Homo sapiens: one gene and its partner. The protein of the gene in region 1 purifies or fractionates together with the protein of each later gene. This does not show direct contact. Each region holds a gene or a part of one and is shown in the gene's direction. Other genes may lie near its edges.

Region 1 (3,654 bases):
TCCAGCTTGTCCTCTCATCTCTAACAGGGTGCAGTGGCCAGGGCATGAGTCCCCGGCTCCCTGCTGAGGAGTGCCAGATGTCTTCTCCTAGGCTGGTTCCAGTGCCTCCTCCTGCAGGGCCCTGTATTCTTTCTCTGCCCTCTGGGAAAGTACTTCTCTTTGCTTACTACCCCCTCCTACTCTTACTCTTGGGCGGGCCTGTGGGCTCCTCTGCTAGAGGGTTGTTTAACCAGAGATAAGTGTGAGGGCCGGGTAAGAGAAGGGCCTGCCGCCTCTGCAGCAGTGGCCCAAGTTAGGAGATGCATTCCTAAACTCCTATCTCCCAGAAAACACCAGTAGAGGACTGCTAGTGGGCTGCTCCCATGGGTGGTTGGGCTTCCCCAGTCTCCATGAACTGTGTAAACTCCTCCTCACCCTGAACAAGCGCTCTTTGCCTTTCTACTTGGTTCTTCATGGTAATAGTCCTCCCCATCCCTGCCAGGACTGGCTGGATTTGAGCAGAACTGGTGGGCTCAGCCCCACACCAACGGGTGGGCTTCTGGTAGGTGACTGCATGACCCTGTATCTCTGTCTTGCCTTCTTCACAGTGGTGTGCTGAGCTCCATTGGGAAGATTTTCAAAGAGGAAGGGCTGCTGGGATTCTTCGTGTACGTGAGTTTATACACCCCATAACTGGCCACGGGCATGGCTCTGCTAACAGGTGTGTCCTCAACCTCTCAGACCGCAGCTGCTGGCCTGGGACTTCACTACATGGCCCTGCCCTAGCCTGAGTGCTGCAGCCAGCTCTCCAGAGCTCCATAGCGTGTCCAAGCTGCTTAGCCCTTTTCAGGCCATGGCTCATGTAAAAGTGGAACTGTGTGTCTAGTACATGGGGGAGATGAACTGACCAGCCCCACTGGGCCTCATCCAGTTGTGGTGGGTGTGGGGCTGGTCTTCATGAGCTAAGTCACTGCATAGTCCTTGGCCTCACTGCTAAAACATGACTGAAAATCTGACTTGGACTGAGGGTGGAGCTCTGGAAGCTCACAGGCTGACCACAGCCAGTGGATTCTGTTTGACATTGCTTTTCTGACAAATTAGTTGTTGCCGTTAACATTTAAGATATGTTGCACAAAAATCCACATGTCTGGCATCTCTTGAAAAGCCAGAAAATCTTGTCCTGCTGAGCGGTTCTTTCTGTAGAGCATCCATCGGCCAGGACCCAGGACCTGCTTCTTTGGCAGGGCACATGGTCTCCGAGGGCCGCAGACACCCTGTACTTCGTCACGTCACATCCAGTGTACTTCACCTCTAAAGAAAGCACATACTGAAAAGACTAAGTTCAGAAAGAATAAGGTGCAGACAGAAGCCAGGCTTGATGAGTTGTATTTTGATTTGCCGTTTTAAGGTCTAGGCAGTGACATACATGCTGATAAGTATGTCACAAACGTGGTAGACACATGGTATACAACAGTATCCGCTGTACTAGATACAGGGCTCCATATTATTCATAAGAAGTCTTTATATCATGGTTTTCCGGTTTGTGAGATGTTTTTTATTTATGGCCCCTTGTTTAACCAATTAGTGACTACTTGTAGGTGCATGTGTGTGTATATGATATAGAAATATATATACGGTTCTCAGCAGGAGGTGATTTTGCTCCCCGGGGAACATCGGCAGTGTCCGGAGACATCTTGTGGTTGTCACAACTGGCATCTAGTGGGTAGAGGCCAGAGACGCTGCTAAACATCCTACAGTACACAGGACAGCCCCGCAACAAAGACTTATTCAGTCAGGTGTCGTTGCTTGCATCTGTGATCCCAGTTAGTTGGGATTAGTCTCAGTGGTTTCTGCAGCTGTCAGGAGACCAAGGCGGGAGGATTACTTGAGGCCAGGAGTTCAAGACCAGCCTGAGCAACATAGTGAGACTTCTGTCTCTACAAAAATGTTTTTAAAAATTAGTTGGCCGTGGCGGCATGCACCTGTAGTCCTAGCTACCCGGGAGGCTGAGGTGGGAGGATGGCTTGAGCCCAGGAGTTGGAGACTGCAGTGAGCTATGATTGCACCACTGCACTCCAGCCTGGGTGATAGAGTGAGACCCTGTCTCTTGGGGAAAAAAAAAATTATTCAGCCCAAAATGTCAATAGTGCCAAGGTTGAGAAACTCTGATTTATATTCACACACACACATATATGTATGTGTAAGTATTTATACATACATATATTTGCACATGTACCTGGTAACAAACCAACATTTGTGACATACCTATCAGCATGTATGTCACCGCCTAGACCTTAAAACAGCAAGTCAAAAAACAACTCATCAAGCCTGGCTTCTGGGTTCTGTCTGTGCTTTATTCTTTCTGAACATAGTCTTTTCAGTATGTGCTTTCTTTAGAGGTGAAGTAAGTTGGATGTGAGGTGACAAAGTGCAGGGCATCTGTGGCCCTCAGGGACCATGTGCCCTGCCAAAGGGGCAGCCCCGGGACCCCAGCCAATGGCTGCTCTACAGAAACAGCCACCCATCTTGAAACACTGCACATGACCACCTCTGGCATTTTTCACACTGCGTAGTTCTCTTCTGGTGTTTGAATAGGATTCCCGCACAACAGATGCCTACTCTTTGGGTTCTTTCTCCCCATGTGATTTTGGAACAGGTGATACTCATACATGTTACAGTGCATAGAAAGCACCAAAGGGTATAGCACAAAGTCAATCTGAGCACAGGCAGGGACGACAAGATTAGAAATTGCATTCACAGAGGTTCCTTTTATTAATACTCTTCATAGATGTATTACATATATTCTTTTGAGTTTTTCAAATATAAGATTTTTTTTTTTAATTCAAAAACAAAAATTCTGCTTCTCCTCCCAGGAGACAGCCATCCTTCTCCTGGCGAGCCTCCCAGGGCACTCTGTACCTAAACAAGCAAACACATTGTAAAAAACACAAGAGGCACATGGGACTCACTGACCTCAAACTGGCCTTTTGCCCTCAGCACTGCATCTTGGGGAACCTTCCTTAGCAGTTTATAGAGCTGTTTATCCTAAAGGCCATCACTTAAAAAGTTAGCCCTCCTTGTAAATGCTTGCATAGAATCTTTTTGATAGAATATTTTCAGGGGCAAAGAGAACAGATGCATTGAGCAGTGTGTCTTCTGAGAGTTGGTTAGGTAAAGAGGCCAGGAGAAAATTACCAACACGTCGGCACTCTTATTATCTGCATTTGGAAATTCCAAATTTGGCAGTATTCACATCTTGATCCCTGGCTTCTGTGGTTTGAAAACTGCTTGAGACTATTAGCTAATTTATGGCATCCAAAGCGGCATAGAACACCTCCCCATGGGAAAAGGAGCACTATCTTCCCAGTGTGCATAGCTGCTGGACCCTGCAGGCCTCCTTTCTAAGGCTGTGCCATTGGATATGCTAAGATTTTGAGCTCGGAACATCCCTGCCTGCTTCCTGGGTGTGGAGCCCCCAGGAACTGCTCCTCTCCCTCTCCTGCTCATCTCTGCTTACCTTGTTTTTTAGTGGATTAATCCCTCACCTCCTGGGCGATGTGGTTTTCTTGTGGGGCTGTAACCTGCTGGCCCACTTCATCAATGCCTACCTGGTGGATGACAGCGTGAGTGACACCCCAGGGGGGCTGGGAAACGACCAGAATCCAGGTTCCCAGG
Region 2 (3,654 bases), on another chromosome or scaffold:
CGCTGCTTGATGAGTGTTGAAGTTCAGGCTCCCCAGAAGGTATCTACTAACATCGTGGTGGGGGATAGTTCTTACTACCCAGCAGGAATGAAAGTCCTTGCTCTCTACTCAGACTTCTCTAACACCTCCCCTGTGGGCAGATTGGGGCAAGTAATTACAGCCTGGCAGGGGTAGAAATCTAGGCCCCTATTGGCATTTGCTGGCATGGGTGGAGCTGCAGTTTTTTCTGTCGTGTTTGGCTGAAGTAGAGCAGTTACTGTCTACTAGCTGTTTCCTGTCTTACTAGTTGCTGCTTTCCTGGTACGTTGGCTAGAGAGAGCAGATTTTGGGGGAGGTTTTTGTCTGTGCCCATTGGTGTTTCCAGGCTGCTGGCTCCTTCAACTTTAGATCTGGGATATATGACCAGAAAAAAACCAGGAACTTTTCTGCGTTGTTCCATGGGTCCCAAGGTCCCCCCTAGCTGATCTGCTTTCATCTCTTCACCTTTCAGAGTGATCTAGCTCCAGCTCACCTTCAGCCTCATTTCTTCTGTCCCATTTGCATGCTTATATCCCCAGAAATGCACTGCATCTATGGCTCTAGCTATTTCTTATGTTCAAGCAATATAGAAAGAACTACTTGCCATTTCCTAACCCCGTGATATGCTTTCACATCTTTAAGACTTTGCTTATGTTGTATATTCTTGCTTTAATATACCTAACCTTCTTCCTCTTTTTTTTTTTTTTTTGAAATGGAGTCTTGCTCTGACGCCCAGGCTGGAGTGCAGTGGCGCCATCTCGGCTCACTGCAGCCTCCGCCTCCCAAGTTCGAGTGATTCTCTGCCTCAACCTCCCAAGTAGCTGGTATTACAGGCGCGCACCACCACACCCATTTAATTTTTGCATTTTTAGTAGAAACGCGGTTTTGCCACGTTGGCCAGGCTGGTCTCGAATTCCTGGCCTCAGGTGATCCATCCGCCTCGGCCTCCCAAAATGCTGGCATTATAGGCATGAGCCACTGCACCTGGCCTACTAACCTCCTTTCTCTATCTTTGAATTCTTCCAGCATTTTCAAAGGCCTTACTCAAAGATCACCTCTCCCATCAAATCTTTTCCAGATCTTCATTCATGATGGTTTACTTCCTTTTCTTTGTTTTTGTGATACTTTATACTTGACATTGATATACCATATATCTCATTTTGTTATGGCTGTTTGTGTCTTTTTTACTCCATGGGATTATGAATCCTTTGACTATAGGGGCATATCTTATTTTTCTTTGTATCTACAACATTTAGAGTACTTGACATATAGTAATTGTTTAATAAACTGTTTGCTGAATGGACCCCATCATGAAATTTACTCTCCTGAAATAGAGTGCAGGTAATTTGAAAGGCTGTCTCTAGAACTACATTGTTTAATCGAAATGTAATTTTAAATTTACCGGTGGCCACATAAAAAAATAAAAAGAAAAACAAGTGCAACGAGTTTTAATAATTTTTATTTAACCCAATATATTAAAAAATGATCATTTCAACCTGTAGTATATATAAAAAATTGAGATACTTTACATTATTTTGTTGTATTAAGTCTTCACAATCTGGTGTATATTTTGTACTTTATAGCTGACCTCACTTTGTACCACCTGCTTTCCAAGTGCTCTCCAGCTGTGTGGAGCTAGTGACTATGTATTGGGCAGCACAGCTCTAAAATGTAATGGAGTTCTTAATATGTAATTAGTCATTTTTGTCCACTTTGGCAGGTTTTGCACAGGCCTTTCTTGATTTTAACTGTGTAACTGTAATTAAGTCTGCAAAACTCATTAGAGAATAGTGCTCCCTTTTAAAAACACCTCATTTCTAATTTAAGGGTGACTGGCTGGCAGCCTAGCTGCATTTTGAGTATGGGCCAGCTAAGATGCCGCCTTAGAGTTCCTCTCATGACTTCAGGCTATTTATTTACCTGTCCTCAACTGCTCATTCACCCCATACTATTCTTAGACTACCTGTTTTTGGCATGATTGTTACTTCTTTCACAGTCAATGTTGTTTAGTTGATATGTGATATGTTGATGTGCCTCCAGAGTATCATATGCTTGTGACACTGTTGATTGGTAGACAGGTAGATCTCGAAGGCACTTCAAGAGGTTACTGTGTCGACTTCATTTACATTCATCTGCAGGAGGGGGAGTGTGGGGGGAAGCTGTAACTACTATATATATATATATATATATTTTTTTTTTTTTTTCAGAGACAGGTTCTCACTCTGTCACCCAGGCTGGTGTGCAATGGTGCAATCATAATTCACTATAACCACAAACTCCTGGGCTCAAATGATCCTTCCATCTCAGCCTCCCTAGTAGCTAGGACTATAGGCATGACCACTGTGCCCAACTCGTTTTCAGTTATTTTGCAGAGATGGGGTCTTGCTATGTTTCCCAGGCCTAGATCGCTTTAATAAGGTTTGAGATCTGGCTAGTGGTTTATTAATGAATTACAAGGCATTAAGTGCATGCTAAATATATTATGTGTATATGTGTTTGTATAATAATATGTTAAGGTGAATTTAAAGGATAGGCTAGAAATGTATTGGTAACAAATCAAATACCTTAACACAAGGTTTATACCTCACTTGTGGTACATAAACTCTGCAAGTCCATAGAGGATTCTGCTTCATGGTCACCCTAGGGTCCAAACTGATGGAGGGTTTCTCCTCATATAACTATACTCTCTAGAACGTGAAGTCTCCTCGTTTGTCATAGCAGGAAAAGACAGCATGGAAAATCATGCACTGGCTCTCAGGTGCTTCAACATATAGTGCATTGGCCAGAACTAGGCACATGGCTCCAGCTAACTCCAGGGATGGGCTGGGAAATGTAGTTGTCTGGTAAGGTAAGAACTAGATGTTAGTGGATATCAATAATGTCTGCCACAGTCCTGATTCTGCCACTTGCTAGCCCTGTGATCTTGGAAAGCCACTCTCTGAGCCCCAGTTTACTCATCTACAAGTTGTAAACAATAATAATCTCACCTAAATGAATTGTGATTATCAGACGAGATACTGTTACATGGGAGCGCTTTGGAAATGTAAAGTGTGATGGAAATTTTGGCTATTCTTTAACTGTTTTTTGAATTTAAAACGCTGCTTGTTTTTCCACAGGTCTATTGAATGATGGAACTGTGGGTATTTTTAGGGGCAACCAGATGCGCTTAAAGCGAGCCTGCATTCGCAAAGCAAAGATCTCTGCTGTTGCTTTCCGGAAAGCTTTCTGCCACCACAAGTTAGTGGAACTTGATGCCACAGGTGTGAATGCTGATATCACGATTACAGACATTATCAGTGGGCTTGGCAGTAACAAATGGATCCAGCAGAATCTCCAGTGCCTGGTGCTGAATTCATTAACTCTCTCCCTCGAGGATCCTTACGAGCGCTGCTTCAGCCGGCTTTCTGGCCTTCGAGCTTTAAGCATCACGAATGTTCTCTTTTACAATGAAGACCTGGCTGAAGTTGCCTCATTGCCAAGATTAGAGAGCTTGGATATTTCTAACACCTCAATCACAGACATCACTGCTCTACTGGCCTGCAAAGACCGACTCAAGTCTCTAACCATGCACCACTTGAAATGTTTAAAAATGACAACTACCCAGATACTGGATGTAGTTCGGGAACTCAAACATCT

Evidence for each region. Proteins that work in one complex are often made in the same cells at the same time.
Region 2: the proteins of MTCH1 (region 1) and ZYG11B purify together in Homo sapiens (affinity purification with mass spectrometry; one large-scale study listed by BioGRID and IntAct). This does not show direct contact.

Annotation. Positions count from the first base shown.
Region 1 is NC_000006.12:36,972,651-36,976,304, reverse strand, and holds part of MTCH1 (mitochondrial carrier homolog 1), read left to right. Parts: intron 1-587; coding exon 588-647; intron 648-3,508; coding exon 3,509-3,653; intron 3,654-3,654.
Region 2 is NC_000001.11:52,767,886-52,771,539, forward strand, and holds part of ZYG11B (protein zyg-11 homolog B), read left to right. Parts: intron 1-3,134; coding exon 3,135-3,654. UniProt on the Homo sapiens protein: Serves as substrate adapter subunit in the E3 ubiquitin ligase complex ZYG11B-CUL2-Elongin BC. Acts to target substrates bearing N-terminal degrons for proteasomal degradation with the first four residues of substrates being the key recognition elements.